Linked DNA regions of Homo sapiens: regions 1 and 2 are each linked to region 3. Evidence: fine-mapped expression QTL. A gene starts in region 3. Each other region holds a variant in brackets. All regions are shown on one strand. Distances are between the middles of the regions.

Evidence for each region.
Region 1: its variant is fine-mapped to the expression of RPL38 in whole blood (INTERVAL, PIP above 0.99).
Region 2: its variant is fine-mapped to the expression of RPL38 in whole blood (INTERVAL, PIP above 0.99).

The regions. Positions count from the first base shown.
Region 1 is chr17:74,110,056-74,115,507 of GRCh38, reverse strand. It overlaps LINC02074 (long intergenic non-protein coding RNA 2074), which reads left to right and starts at 2,609. Exons shown (of 5, transcript NR_184085.1): 1 at 2,609-2,862. The variant C/T (reference allele first, on the strand shown) is at 3,073.
Region 2 is chr17:73,933,514-73,938,965 of GRCh38, reverse strand. All of the region lies in intron 5 of LOC105371888 (a long non-coding RNA gene), which reads left to right. LOC107985081 (a long non-coding RNA gene) reads right to left here. Exons shown (of 3, transcript XR_001752999.1): 3 at 5,320-5,448. Among named protein-coding and RNA genes, the nearest start is that of LINC00469, 110 kb to the right of the region's middle. The variant C/T (reference allele first, on the strand shown) is at 2,697.
Region 3 is chr17:74,201,207-74,206,658 of GRCh38, reverse strand. It overlaps RPL38 (ribosomal protein L38), which reads right to left and starts at 2,981. Exons shown (of 5, transcript NM_000999.4): 1 at 2,914-2,981; 2 at 2,701-2,741; 3 at 2,469-2,529. The coding sequence starts at 2,703. RefSeq lists enhancers at 1,225-1,728, 1,729-2,233, 3,242-3,745.

The DNA.
Region 1 (5,452 bases), 91 kb after region 3:
CCCCTCACTCCTGCTTCCTGGGGTCATCTCCCAAATAAAACACTTGCACCCAAGTCTTCGCTTCAGGACCAGCATCTCCAGTTTGTCTGGGGTGTGGAGAGGACTCTACATATGCTGCAGGATGAGGAGACCAAGCACTGTCCCCTCCAGCATCCACTTCCTCCTCACCGCCCCCCACCCCAAATAGAGCGACAGCATAGCTGGACCACAGATCTGCCTGAGACAGGCCTGCTAGTGACGGCCCAAGGAGGATGCGCAGACCAGCTCCACTGGCTCCCCAGCTTCCCAGTTCGGAGCCAGCTTTGCTCCGCTGTCCAGCTTTGCAGAGAAGTGATGGATTGTGTGGGGAGGTGGCGGTGATGGTGGGGAAGGCTAGGAACAGAGCCCTCTACTGTGGTGAGCAGGCCCTTTCATGGTGCAGCATGGGGTCTCCAGGAGCCTGAGGGGCACTGCACAAACTCCGGGTTGGCCCGGGGGAGGCTGAGCACCAGCCTGAAGACTCACCACCCTGGTCAGGAGCAGCTGGCAGCAAGACCACACCCTGATGGGCAGGCCAGGCAAAGCTTGAGGCTGGAGAACCCAAGGTTGGGAGCTTGACTGAAATTGGGGGTGTCTTTGATCACCTGTTGAACTGCTACACCATCGGAAGTGGCTTATCCACTGGGGGATTCCCTCCTTGCCTACTCAGCGCCTTGCAGGTGACAGGTGCTGAAATCAGTGCAAACAGAAATGAGAGGATCCCCAAATCAAAACCAGGAAATATTCCTGCCACTCAGCAGCTCTCCTTCCCGCTCCCCGGAGACAGGTGGCAGAACTCCCTATTATTGTCTTTGGGGGCAAATTGAGCCTGGGGCAGAGGAGGGAGAGAGAAAGACAGCTCAACTTGGGGTGGCAGGTCACAGATTATGTCCTGATTGTAAATGTCTGACCCCTGGCCCACCAGCTCTCCGTGTAACCCTCTTCCCCAAACAACCATCTCCTGATTTTCCTGTATCCCCGTCCCGTCTCCACCTCCCGCCTGCCCCTGCCCCCACCCCCTCCCCAGTTCAGATCTGCCTGGAGGCCTGGATGGCGACCATATGTTTAAGATGTTCCACTGCTGCTGTTGAGAGCCAGAAGGGCTGCCTGGGAGAAGGCACTCAGTCAAAGCTGTGTTTATATACACAAGGGCCGGCGTCTTTTTATTATGCATAATTATACGCTTCTTAATGTACAGGCATTTCGAGCCATTTTTCCTTCCTTGGTGAAGTCGCAGCAGAGGCGGGTGTGAGTCCGGGTGCTTGGGGGCCGGGAGATGGCTGCTCTTGTCTCCTTAACTCGGGGGTGCTGAGCCCTGAGCATGGCGGGTCCCTCGACCGATCAGCGTGCGAGGTCGCTCTGACCGAGAGAACGAATTCTTCCAAGGGGATCGGGGAGCCGGGACGCGGTGGTACATCGTGGAAATGTTGTAGATCATGAGGTGAAGCCCTCTCTCTCCCTCTTTGTCTTTGAGCCAAAGCCTCAGATACGCACTCCTGCCCTCATCCTGAAAGAAAATGTTAGATCCTTCCTACAAAGCATTGTTTTACATCTATACCCAGCGATTCTCCTCTTCTTTCTAAATTTCACAAACTTAGACTCTGAAAACCTGACATTGAGAGGTGACAGCATGCTGGCAGCCCTCACAGCCCTCGCTCGCTCTTGGTGCCTCCTCGGCCTCGGCGCCCACTGTGGCCGCGCTTGAGGAGCCCTTCAGCCCGCTGCTGCACTGTGGGAGCCCCTTCCTGGGATGGTGGAGGCTGGAGCCGGCTCCCTCAGGCTGCGGGGAGGTGTGGAGCAAGAGGCACGGGGGCTAACCGGGGCTGCGCACAGCGCTTGCTGGTAGAGTTCCCCGGGCGTGGGTTTGGCGGGTCCCGCACTCGGAGCGGCCGGCCGACAGTGAGGGGCTTAGCACCCGGGCCAGCAGCTGCGGAGGGTGCGTCGGGTCCTCCAGCAGTGCTGGCCCACCGGCGCTGCGCTCGATTTCTCGCAGGGCCTTAACTGCCTCCCCGCGGGGCAGGGCTCGGTACCTGCAGCCTGCCATGCCTGAGCCTCGCCCCTGCCCTCGCCCCCGCCCCCGCCCCCGCCGTGGGCTACTGCGCGGTCCGAGCCTCCCTGACAAGCGCCGCGCCCTGCTCCGCTGCGCCCAGTCCCATCTACCGCCCAAGGGCTGAGGAGTGCGGGCGAACGGCGCCGGGCGGGCAGGCGGCTCCACTGGGTGAAGCCAACTGGGCTCCTGAATCTGGTGGGGACTTGGAGAATCTTTATGTCTAGCTCAGGGATTGTGAATGCACCAATCGGCACTCTGTATCTAGCTCAAGGTTTGTAAATGCACCAATCAGCACTCTGTGTCTAGCTCAGGGTTTGTAAATACACCAATCGACACTGTGTATCTAGCTAATCTAGTGGGGATGTGGAGAACTTTTGTGTCTAGCTCAGGGATTGTAAACGCACCAATCAGCACCCTGTCAAAACGGACCAATCAGCTCTCTGTAAAACAGACCAATGGGCTCTCTGTAAAATGGACCAATCAGCAGGATGTGGGTGGGGCCAGATAAGAGAATAAAAGCAGGCTGCCGGAGCTAGCGGTAGCAACCCGTTTGGTTATCTTTCTGTGCTGTGGAAGGTTTGTTCTTTCACTCTGCACTATTTTGCAATAAATATTGCTATTGCTCACTTTGGGTTTATATTGCCTTTATGAGCTGTAACACTCACCATGAAGGTCTGCAGCTTTACTCTTGAAGCTTAGCGAGACCACTAACCCACCAGAAGGAAGAAACTCCGGACACGCCGCCTTTAAGAACTGTAATACTCAGTGCGAGGGTTCACGGCTTCATTCTTGAGGTTAGTAAGACCAAGAATCCACAAATTCCAGACACAACATGGTAATATATGGGGTCACTATCCTTATAGTGAGGGTTAAGCTTTAAATCATCACAATGAAAGCTTTTTGTTTCTCTAGCGTAGCAGCAAGGGAGAATAAGGCCTCTGGAGTCCAGGACTTGGGTTCAAATCCAAGCTCCACCGTAGCTGTGTGACCTGGGTTTATCATTT[C/T]GCCTTTTTGAATTTCGGTTTTCATTGAAATAATGGGAATAACATTAGTTCCTATATCATGGAAAGTACCTAGCACGGTCCTTGGTGCCTTGTAAATGCTTGGAAAATTATCCTTTCTCCTGTGGTGATGGTTCTAATAGACTGAGTTTTATGAGAGCAAGAGTGGGTGTCTCCCATCCACTGCTTTCTTTTTGATACCCTGAACTCTGCTGATGGCAGCAAACATTTGCTGAATCGTTGTTGAACAAGGAATGAATGAACACCGGGTTTGGAATCAGGGTCTTTTTTTGAGACAAGAGTCTCACTCTGTCTCCCAGGCTGGAGTGTGGGGGCTCCATCTCGGCTCACTGCAAGCTCCACCTCGGAGTCACGCCGTTCTCCTGCCTCAGCCTCCCAAGTAGCTGGGGCTACAGGCGCCCACCACCATGCCTGGCTGATTTTTTTGTATTTTTAGTAGAGACCGGGTTTCACCATGTTAGCTAGGATGGTCTCAATTTCCTGACCTCGTGATCTGCCTGCCTTGGCCTCCCAGAGTGCTGGAATTACAGGTGTGAGCCACCGCACCCGGCCAGGGTCTGTGTTTCATTTACCGACTGTGGGGCCAGGCCGTACAAGACCTCTGAGCTCCACAGATGCAAAGTGAAGAAGTTATGGATTGGCCCCATAGGCATGTGACGATGAGATTAACTGAGAGGCGCTGAGATAAAGCACGTGAAGTGTTTAGCTTGGTACTCGGTGTCAGGTCATGTCCAATTTTATTAGGAGCTTATATTCCATTCTGTAGCAGCTTGCTATTTTTATTTTTTTTTACTTTTTTTTTGAGACAGTCTTGCTCTGTCGCCCAGGCTGGAGTTCAGTGGCGCCATGTTGGCTCACTGCAAGCTCCGCTTGTCGGGTTCGCGCCATTCTTCTGCCTCCGAGTAGCCGCTTGGCTAATTTTTCTATTTTTGTTTAGTAGAGATGGGGTTTCACTGTGTTAGCCAGTATGGTCTCGAGAGATCTCCTGACCTCGTGATCCACCCGCCTCAGCCTCCCAAAGTGCTGAGATTACAGCGTGAGCCACTGTGCCCGGCCGCAGCTTGCTATTTGAAAGCATTTTTATTTCCATCACCCCATGTGATCTTCAAAACAACCTGTGGGCTGGGCAGTCTTCATCCCACAAATAAGAGGGTTTCAAGCCGGCCAGTGGAATCCCAGCGCTTTGGGAGGCGAAGCAGGGGGATCGCTTGAACCCAGGTGTTTGAGATCAGCCTGGGCAACATAACAAGATCCTTTAACTATAAAATTAAAAAAACCAGTTTCAGAAGGGTGAAATGACTTGCCAGCCACAGTGTCCAAGCCCCATGGCACTACCCGCCCCCTACCTATCCCGCCTTCCTGTTTGTCACTTTTGTTCCAATGCAACTTATTTGGTCCTTTGAGAGTGTCCCAGACTTTTAAATGTAGGAGATGCTGGAGCTCTGTGGTGTACATAAATCTTTCTTTGAAGCCTGCTTCCACCAGGAAGGCCCCCTAGGATGAAAAGACTTAACAGTCCAAAATGTTATCAGCCCACTTTGGAGAGCCCTTTTCTGGGCCCCTACCCTAGTGGGGAAGCACACACAGACTGCCAGGCTGTCATTCATACGGAGTTCACCCTGGGAGGAGCAGACAGATTACTGTGTGTGGGGCAGGGCACTTCCCACACACTTGCGTGGGGTTTCGAGCGGGGACGGTGGCCAGGGGCCCTGTGTATACACATTTTTTTTGTTTGAGACAGGGTCTTGCTCTGTCTCCCAGGCTGGAATGCGGTGGCGTGATCACGGCTCACTGCACCCTTGATCTCAACAAGCAATCCTTTCATCTCAGCCCCTCAAGTAGCTGGGACCACAGGCACGTGCCACCAGGCGTGGCTCATTTTTTTTTTTATTTTTGTAGAGACAGGGATATCCCTATGTTGTCCAGGCTGATTTTTGAAATGTGCTCAAGCGATTCTCCCACCTTGGCCTCCCAAAGTGTTGGGATTACAGGCATGAGCCGCCGTGCCCGGCCAACGCATATGCTCTGTGCTGACAGATTTCTTCTGAGCTAACAGATGTTGTCCTTTGACCCATATTGACCCTGTTGGAACACCCTAAATATTATTTAGCTGTCTCTCACCAAAACATTACAAGTTAGGCAGTTAGAGCTGTTTTTCAGATTTACCTGGCTGTTATGTCTTTTTTTTTTTTTCTTTTTTTGAGATGGAGTCTTGCTCTGTCACCCAGGCTGGAGTGCAGTGGCGTGATCTTGGCTCACAGCAACTTCTGCCTCCCGGGTTCAAGTGATTCTCCTGCCTCAGCCTCCGGAGCAGCTGGGATTACAGACACCCACCACCACGCCCAGCTAATTTTTGTATTTT
Region 2 (5,452 bases), 270 kb after region 3:
ACCCTCCCATTTCCTAACTTGCACAGGTACATTTCTGGCCCTCCAAAGTGGAAACCTGCTTGTTCTTCAATGAACAAAGGGGCTCTTGCTGAATGTGTGTGTGGCCCTGGAGTTGAAATCCATCTCCTTGACCTTGGAGGCTGGTTTTTCCCAACTCAGGGAAAATTGCTAAGAGTCCAGCAGCAGGCTCAGTGTCTTTTTGGAGTTTTCAGAGCTAGGATGCTCCTCTCTCTCAGGCTCTTTAAGAACCTTCCAGCATCCACCTCCAAGGGGGAGGTTTGGCATTTCCATATCCTTGGCTGGCAAATTGTAAATTTGGATATGAGCAGAAAATATAGTGACATCAAGGTTATGTGGTCTGCAGCTGACAAGATGGATAGCCCTCAGCTAGGCAGCATTTCCCAGCTTCTTCTTGGTTTGCACTCTCTGCACCTCTCTTTCTTTTAACCTTTTTTTTTTAAGGAAAACATTTTTAGAGACTTTAATAACTGTGGAAGGATGCTGTAAGGCGGGCAGGGAAATTGATCATTTTTATTCGGTTGTGCGTGATAAAATGTAAGTTTGAGCCATGAATCTTCTTACCTTGAGGGAAAAGAACGGTGTGCCTGGCTGTTAATATGACTCCCTTTTTGGAGATTTTAATGAAGGAATCCCGCTCCCCACCGCAGATTAATTCATAGCTGTGGACAGGGCGGGGCTGAGGCGGGAATACACTCTTTCCTCCAATCTAGCAACTGCTGGTTCCGTCTCTCTCCACATCTGCGTGTATTCGCTGTCTATTATTTTTAATCAATGTCTCACCAAACACATATAAAGCTCCCACTGTGTGCAAGACACCATGCCTAGCACCAAGGAGGGGAGATGCTGAGGAGTATCTCAGAGTCCTGTGTAAGTTGCCCAGAAGAGGGCTCCTCTCCAGGCCCTGCCTGTGAGCACCCCAGATACCTCCCCACTTGTCTTGGCCACAGCTATATCCCCCTACTGGAACATGGCAAGAGATGAGGCACACGGCTTGTGTTGGCCACAGGACTCCATTTTGGGTACCCTAAAAGGAAAGGCAGGGCTGCAGTCTCAGTCAGCTTGGGCTTCCATAACAGAATGCCATAGACGTTTATTTCTTACAGTTCTAGAAGCTGGAAGTCCAAGATCAAGGTGCCAGCTGATGTGGGTCCTGGTGAGGCCTCTCTTCCTGGCTTGCAGATGGCCACCTTCTTGCTGTGTCCTCCCGTGGCAAGGAGGGAGGGAGAGAGACTGACAGCGCATGCATGCTCTCTAGTCTTTTCCTTCCTCTTCTTATAAGGCCATTCATTCCATCATAGGGGCCTTACCCTGTGACCTCATCTAACCCTAATCACTTCCCAAAGTCCCCACATCTAAATACCATCCCACTGGAGTGTTAGGGCTTCAATATATGCATTTTGAGGGGACACACATATTCAGTCCGTAACAGACCTGTGTTGTGGAGCTCATTTCCTCTTTCTTCTTCTTAGGGGGTTGAGTATGGTGGAGTTGGAAAGTGTGATGTATGGTGTGGGGAGAGGACAGAAAGCGACCTCTGCTGCCAGGCGGAAAAATGCCCACCCAACTACTCCTGCCACATCAAGTCTGTGGCCAGAGTGTAGGAGGGTTCAGGCCACTGCTACCTCCCGCATCCTTGCCCTAGCATCCCTTCCTCAGGTCCTAATCCTAAACCTCCATCAGCTCCCTGCTTTCTGGATCCCTCCCGCAGCCAGGCCCCTCTCTTGCTGTGGCTCACCAGTCATCTGGACATTGCTGGCAATAAGCTTCCTTAAACATCCATGGTGCACACGCTGCTCTGCAAACAAAGACAGGGCATCCAATTATTCCAAAAACAACCTGTTTCTGTTTGCTTATCTGACTCGGACTGTTTGCCCCTGACATCGCTATTGATCAATTTGAACTTTTCCCCTTCAAGTCCAACATGATTCATAATTTGTGGTTGGGAAAAGCCACCTGGGCAGTGGGCCCCCTGGGACCAGGCCCTGTGCACCCATAATCTCATTTAATGCTCTATGTGGTTGGTATCATGATTTCTATCTGAAAGACAAAGAAAACAGGGGCTGGGGGAAGGTGAGCATTTATCCAAATCTCCCAGCTTATAGGTGATGGTTATCAGAATTTGAACCCAGGTCTGTCTGTTCCAAAGACTGGCCCCTCTCTAATACATTGAGATGCCTCCTGTGTAGGCACCCAGTTTTGATGGTCACCCCAATTCAGAATTGCAATCAGACAACAAACACCAGAGAATACAAAAGGCTGATTGTGACTCTGCGTAGGGAACAAGTGTACCAAGCTGTGCCGACAGTTTGATGGTGGGTCAGTGTGACATCTTGGAAAAAATAGCAGCTGATTATATTTTTCAAATCGACATGTGTTTTTAAAGACTTTTGAATCAGATGTGAGTCAGGAGCATTAGGGCAAAAGTGTAACACTTTTTTTTTTTTTTTTTTTTTGAGACGGAGTTTCGCTCTGTCGCCCAGGCTGGAGTGCAGTGGCGTGATCTCGACTCACTGCAAGCTCCACCTCCCGGGTTCACGCCATTCTCCTGCCTCAGCCTCCCGTGTAGCTGGGACTACAGGCGCACGCCACCATGCCCGGCTAATTTTTGTATTTTTTTTTTTTAGTAGAGACGGGGTTTCACCATGTTAGCCAGGATGGTCTCGATCTCCTGACCT[C/T]GTGATCCGCCCGTCTCGGCCTCCCAAAGTGCTGGGATTACAGGCGTGAGCCACCGCGCCCGGCCAGTGTCACACATTTATATTTGGTGAATGTGGGAAATTTCTCCCATGAAAACAAAGTGAGCAGTCACTCTTGAGGTCTGGGTGCATAAATTATAGTACATTTATACCATGCGATATTATGCCCTATTGAAAACAATTAGAGCAATATTGGAGGACAGAGAGAGAGTTCCCCAAGGTATTGTTGAGTGAGGAAAACAAGATGCAAGAAACTGAATATCATATATTTCTGCAAAACAAATAATGACAAAAGGCTGGCTATACATGTATAAGTGCACACATGTGTATAAGTGAATGCATGTGGGTGTGTATAAAAAGTTACATACATGTATGTACATACATGTCTACCACATGTAGTGTGTGTATGTATATATTTATACAGGATAATATGATCATGAAGAAAAATGTGGAAGGATCCCTACTAGGCTATTAGCATGAATTTCTAGTGGTTATGGGTGGAGGACAGAGGAGAGGTGTCAAGGAAAGTCAAACTAACAGGAAAAAAAACTAAGAGTCTGCACAAACACACACACACACATACACATGAATCATGTAATGACAACATTTATGCATTTAAATAAAGGTATAGGCATTCATGTAAATACATTCAAAGAAAAGTTGTAAGTTATTTTCCTACAGCAACAGAGCACTTACCCCAGAGATCTGCATGAAGGCATGACAGTGAACAGGCCTCTGCAGATCCAGACGGTACAGTCTAGAGGCTGGGGACAGCTACTAGGAAGCCACATCACTGGCTTCCCACTCCCTGCAATGGGAAGGGTTGGTTTATTCCTTGGCTTTACAGCCGGCACAAGGAAGAGGGGTACCTGTGTGATTTGGGGGTCTTCTCCAGCTGCTGCCTTAGAGTCCCCCACCTGGTTCAGGGGTAAGTGAAACAGTAGAAGGGGAAAATAAACTCTTTTCTACTTCTACTAACATTAGGGTAACCGTAACACTGATCATTTAAACAGGGACCACTTTGAGAGTGAAGAGCAGAACTATGAATAATTCAGGTGCAAACCACGACTGTCCCTAGCACACCTGGCTGTAGGGTCACCCTAGCTATAGCTCCTAAATGGGGGGTCTACATTCTAAATTTCACCATCTTCTCCATGCAAATGTGAGTATTAATTGATCCAGAACCCTGTAATTGTTGTAACTGGAGCCCAACAGGACTGAAATTACTCTTAATTATCATCCCATCCCAGGAGGGAGGGTCCTTTTCCCTCAAAGTTACAGAGACACGTGGTGAAACCAAGGGGGACGGGTGTGTGGCTTCCATGGGGCCCTGCTTAACCACAAATGTCAATGCTCTGGGCTGAGCAGGGCTGGGATTCCTGCACATGCTCTGTGTGGTTGGCCTGATCTATAAGAGACTAAATAATGACCAGGCTTGCTGCTAGAGCACTTTGTAGCTGATGTGTCTGGCATCACCAGCTTGGATTACTAAATGGGTACATGCTGATTAATCTACAAATTAGGTTGATGAACCCCCACCCTAGCTGTCTCAAGGATTTGTATATCTCCCCGGTGCCCTTCTTCCCAAGCATCCCTTTGTTAATTCAAGGGATCTACACAGAGACTGGTATTTGGACCAGGGCAGAGAGAAAGATAGAGGGGGAAAGATTATTTTTTCCCAAACTATTAATATCTACTAATCTGAAATGCCATAATTGAGGGCTAGAGGCAGCATTTTTCTTGGCTAGCAGGGGGAAAGCTATTTGAAATGGCCTTGAGAATATGACTAACATGAAGGAAGCAGACTGCAGAGATAAAGATGAAAGAAAGACCCTGATGATACTGTTTGAGCCACTTGCACCCTCTTCCTTGTGCTGGATCTTCAGGAGCACCTGAAGTCTGCTCCCCAAAGTTGGCAGAAAGAATAATGGCCCCCAAAGACATCCACATCCTCACCTCTAGAATCTGTGAATATGCTACCTTACATGACAAAAGGGGTACTGCATATATGATTAAGAATTTTGAGATGGGGAGATTACCCCAGATTATATGGGTTGGCTCAGTGTTATCACAAGGGGAAGCAGAACAGTTAGAGTCAGGGAGGGAGATGTGGCCATGGAAATAAAGGTCAAAGTTATGCCATTGCTGGAAGTGGGCTGTGAGCCAAGGAATTTCAGGCATTCTCAGAACCCAAAAGGCAAGGAATGAATTCTTCCCTACATCTTTTAGAAGGAATGCAGCCTTGCCACCATCTTGGTTTTAGCCACATAAACCCATTTCTGGATTTCTGGCCTCCAGAGCTGCAAAATAACACTTTATGTTGTTTTAATCCACTCACTTTGTGGTAATTTGTTACAACAGCAATTAGAAAACCAATACTCTCAGCTTTCTGGTGGCATGAAGCAAATTTTCTTGAGTTAGACTTGATTTTCCATCATTTGTAACCCCAAGAATCCTGTACTAGTAACCAGCTCCAGGAGGACTAACATCCCTTTCCAGAACAGCCCAACTACGATACTCTCCCAACTTGTCCTTTACCTCAGAAGTCCTATAACTAGGGCTTGAGAGGAACATGGGGACAGATTCGTCAACTTTCTCCTGCAAATGAAAAATCCAGTCAGGCTCAGATAGATCCAATGACTTGCCTGAGCAGTTGAAGGGGTTTCTACCCAGCATGGGTTCTAGATCTGGAGTCCATGGACCGGCTGCTGTGGCCCAGTGGACCTGTGAAGTCCTAG
Region 3 (5,452 bases):
AGAAGCCAGTCACAAAAGGTCAAATATGCAATAGCAGACCCACTTGTATGGGGTATCCAGAGCAGTCACATTCAGGGACAAATTGGAAGGTGGTTGCCAGGGGCTGGGGAAGAATGGGGAGCTGGTGTTTAACAGAGGGAGTTTCAGTTTGGGAAGATAAAGTTCTGGAGATGGGCGGTGATGGTGGCAGCTGCTCAACAATGTGTATTTACTGAATGCCACTGAACTGTACAATTATGCTTTGTTGCCCAGCCCGGAGTGCAGTAGCATAATCGTGGCTCACTATAGCCTCAATTTCCTGGATTCAAGCAATCCTACCTCAGCCTCCTGAGTAGCTAGGACCACCAGCACACGCCCGGCTAACTTTTTTCTTTTATAGAGACAGGGTCTCACTATGATGCCCAGGCTAGTCTCATCCATCTGCCTCAGTCTCCCAAAGTGCTGGGATTACAGATGGGAACCACCATACCCAGTGTAAATGGTAACTTTTACGCTATGCCTATTACACGTTAAAAATTAATACAACCATTTTAAAAAGTTTTTTCAACAAACAGCTACTGACACTTTACTGTCCCCAGGGGACTGTGACCACTACCTTTAAAGCCACATCATCTAAAATGAAGGTTCCCAATTTTTTTTGTGAGACAGTCTCGCTCTGTCACCCAGGCTGGAGTGCAGTGAGACAATCTCAGCTCACTGCAACCTCCGTCTCCTTGGTTCAACTGATTCTCCTGCCTCAGCCTCCTGAGTAGCTGGGACTGCAGGCGTGTGCCACCATGCCTGGCTAATTTTTTTATTTTTAGTAGAAATGGGGTTTTGCCATGTCGCCCAGGTTGGTCTTGAACTCCTGGTTCAAGCGATCTGTCCGCTTTGGCCTCCCAAAGTGCTGGAATTATAGGCATGAGCCACCACGCCCGGACCACCACCCTTTTAAAACACAATCAAACGGTGGTGTCGTGTTTAACTTGCTGAGAAGGGTAAGTTACCTGCAGGTAGAGTTGGGCTTCAAACTAGGCAGTGACCCCATATGGTCTGAAATAAAACTGACCTGATAACCTCATCTCTTTACACAAAACACTAGCCAACAGTCATCATTCCCACCAGATGCTATTTGTCCCCACAGGTGGTCACTACCTCAAAGGTGACAGCCTGTTTTGGGTAATGGGGACACAAATATGACCCCCATCTCTGCCTACCCCCAACTCATTGAAAGACTCTCCCTGTACACCAACCACCGTCTGGCACCACGGCTGGCAGAGCATTAGAGACGGCTGGTGTCTTAGCCCACCTTAACAGGCCTGTCCCATGCAACCTCACTTCCACATGTGACCTGATTCTCAGTCAGCTGAAAAAAGATGACTGGGTTAAAGTAACAACATAACTCAAGACCTAGCTTGTATCAAACACAAGCCCCCCCAATCTCCTTCAAGTATCACAAAGGAGTAACACAACTACCTCTCACACTTGGTGTAAAAATTTAAGTAAGTGGGCAGCAGAGATTGGCACCTATCCATCGAAAACCTGCTGTTTAAGGTTTTTCATTAATCACCTTCTTTCCCCTGTATGTACAAGCTGGGAAACAGACCTATGACAGTCCAACTTAAACTCTGTGACTTTACAATGGTGGTAATGCGATATACATTCAGTAGAAGCCCTGCTTCAAATTTTGATCTTGGCGGGGCACAGTGGCTCACACCTGTAATCCCAGCACTCTGGGAGGCGGAGGCAGGTGGATCATCTGAGGTTAGGAGTTCGAGACCAGCCTGGCCAACATGGTGAAACTCTGTCTCTACCAAAAACACAAAAATCAGCTAGGCATGGTGGCGCGCCCAGCTACTTTGAGGCAGGGGGATCGCTTGAACCTGGGAGGCGGTAATTGCAGTGAGCCAAGATCGCACCACTGCAATCCAGCCTGGGCGACAGAGCCAGACTGTCTCAAAGAAAAAAAAAAATTTTTTTAAATATTTTTCTGGATTAGATAGGTATGATACCTTCTGACACTGGCCAGCGACCACAGGATCACGAGGTAAACGACCATACTACACAGTGTGCCGTGCTCGATACATTACATGCAAATATCCAGCACTTTATTACAAAATGGATTTTGTGTTAAGATTTTGCACAACTGCAGAGAACCTAAACAGTGTTTATGGGACGTGTGTTTTGAGGCTTTCGCGGAGTGGAGATTCCGTTCCGACAATTTACTATATTATACGAAAGAAAACTGAACTCAGGGCGGCCTCTGAGATGATCGCGATTAGCTAAAGATGGTCCTAGAAATTCCAGGGCCTCAACGTGCCCCCCACAGGTCTTTCTCATGGGAAACAGGATGAAACCACTGCTCCCAGAGGGCCAGGCACACACCCAGACGGCCTAACCGTCTCCTGCCTGACATTCCGGGGAAGACGCTCCCGGAGCGGTGCCAGGCTAGGCACCGCTCTTCTTGAACCTTCGGAGCAACCACTTACATTTGGCATCCTTTCGTCGGGCTGTGAGCAGGAAGTCCTTGATTTCCTCAATTTTCCGAGGCTGCAACACAAAGGAAGCGGGTGAACAGAGAGGAAAGAGACACGTCTCCCGGCGATGGCCCAGTCCACCAGCTTCTCCCGGCCTCAGGAGATCCTTGGGAGGCTCTCTCGCCCTCGCCCCGGGGCCCCACGAGCCCACCCCGGGAAGGCGCCAGGCAGGGACTGTACTCACCATGGCGACGAGGCGCGCTGGGCTCTGGCGCGGACCAGGACCTGCGGGAAACAGTCCTCGGCGTTAACACGGCGCGGGGGCTGGCAGCGAACCCCGTTTTCCCGCTCTCCCCCGAAATATCGGCCCCATCGCACTCCCCTTCTCCTCCCCGACACCCTCCACGCGGACCTGGGGTCCCCAGATTTCACCTGGCAGTGGATTGCCCCAGATTACCTTTCTCACCCACGTATCACCCTAGAGACACTCACAGCAAGCAGCAACCGGGGAAAAGGACGAAAAAGAACGAGACTTCCGTTTCCGGGCAGTTAAACCCTCCCAACGGAGGAAACTGGGTACGGTGCCTGCCGAGGATCAAGACTCATGTAGGCGTTCGCACTTCCAATTTCAGCAGCCCTGCCCCCTTGTGGTCGAAGTCAACAGTGCAGCTCCAAGAATGGAATGGACCATCCTGGCTGCCGCCCTCCCTCCGCCTCCCTCCTCTCGCTCCTCCCCATCCCTTCCTCCTAGGACCCCCGCCTCTTCCCCGTCCACCCCTTCCTGTCTTCCCCCGCAACCCCTCAGACCCCAGCCTGGCTTTGCTAGGTTTTAGCTCAGATTCAGTTTGAAGAGCTAACGCTTATTCTCCACGGCTTTCATTGGACCTGCGCAGGGGCATCCACACAGAAAATTCTTCATTCAATGGCAGGGACCCTCGTGTGCACCTTGTAGAACCTGTTGTTCTGGCGCCTCACGTTTTCTTCCCGTCTCCTTTTTGGCACCTGAACCTGTCATGACCAGGGCCCTGGGCTCTTCTTTCCATAAGAGGGAGCGTTCCTGCTTGCTGCTTCCAATTCCCTTAGGAATTGGTGTACAATGAAAGCAAGTTAAGGCCGGGCGCGGTGGCTCACGCTTATAACCCCAGCACTGGGGGAGGCCGAGGCAGGCGGATCGCTTGAGGCCAGGAGTTCGAGAGCAGCCTGGGCAACCTAGTAAGACCTCCCCCCCCCCATCTCTAGCAATAATGATAATAATAATAATACTTCCAAAAGCTGTCGCAGCGCTGCCCCTGGCTAAGTGTCTCACCCCTAGGGCTGATGGTGAGTGGGAGTGCTCCTGCTCTTGCGGGGTCTCACCGCGGCCCCAGAGGGGAGAGGTGGACTCAGGAGTTGAACCCCTGCTGGGCAGATTCCCCAGCCCAGGCTCCGGCCACTTCCTGGGGAGGCTTGGGAAGCCTGGGGAGGGCAGCGTTCCTTTCTCCCCCTAACATCCTTTAGGTTAGACTCTGAGCAACCTGCGGTTATCGATTTTATTTTTATCCTCCATTTTTATTTTATCTCCAACCTCCCTACAAATGTCTACATTTTATTATATTTGTTTCCCCAAAATTTAATAACCACACGGCAGAATGTAATTGCTTCGTGCTTATTATTACAGAGCGGCCCTCCTGAAGGGAAAGAACACTTTGCCATGAGCTTTACTTAGAACTTATTTAACTTAACCTTCCTTTCTTCCTCCCTCCTGCCCTTCCATTAACAAGCTCAGGCTGAGCACCTTCCTGGGGGTGCTGGAGATACAGGAACCAATAGACCTTGCTGCAGAGAGATCACAAAAATATTGTAATAACACTGAAGAGTCTTTTAAAGAAGCTGAACGATGTCTCTGCAACTGTAAATGTGTCGGGGTTCTAGCAGTGGGAAAAGTTAATTGGCAGAAGCCTAATTTTAGATGTCTGAAGGTCGGATCCGATCTGAGAAGCACGAGTGCTTCAGCTCTGACCTGAGAAGGATTTTCCCATACCTCAGAGCCCGGCTTTGCCAGCCCTTCCCATCTCAGGCGATGCCTTTCTGGTCTTTTCTACCCCACTGCTCCTCCACAAGCAACCACCCTTTCAGCCAAGCCGAGGGGCACTTTTGGGCACTTTCTGCCCTCCAGGTATTTGCTCTGCTGTCCACTCTGATGCCAAGTGCCACTGGTCCTTCCGAGCTCAGCTCCCGCCTCCCCTTTTTCAGGCAGGACCCTTCACCCTTGACTTATGTTGCTTGCCGCTCATACAGTGGTTCCTTGCAATCACTTCTCCGTAGGCTGCGTGGAGGTGTTTAACTTTTCATACATGCGCACCACTCTTTTTATTTTTAATTTTTTAAAACTTTTTTAGAGACATGGTCTCCCTAGGTTGCCCAAGCTGGTTTCGAACTCCTGGGCTCAAGGGATCCTCCTGCCTCGGCCCCCCAAAGTGCTAGGATAACAGGTGTGAGCCACTACGCCCCACCTTACCACTTTTCCTTGAAGGCAAGGACAGGGCTCAGCATTCTGTCGATAACTCTCGAAGTGCAGTACCCATCTGTACAGTAAGTGCTCAATGCTAACATTGCAGGATGATCCGGCTGGATGCGGCATCTGAGATCACTCACCATATAAAGGGGTGGTGGATGGAGGGAGGAATTCAGGGAGAGCCAGAAGGAGACACTGACGTGCCTGAAGCAGTGCCTGGCATGTAGTAGGTCCAAAAACTATTTGTTGAATGAATGACTGGTGCTTCTTGCCTCACTGCCGGCCCGACAGGACAAGGACGGGGATAGAAGGAGGAGCTGCACCTCCCTTTTGGCAGCGATCCCAGGGAGACAGATGTTCACCCTCTTGAGTTGTATAATTTAAGGGACCATAGACGTGTAGTAGCAAAACACAATGGCAAATTTGTTCAAGTACCAAAGACCTCCAGCTCCCCAAGGGGGACAAATAGCAAAATAAGCTGCAGCTACTAAAAGTGAGGCAA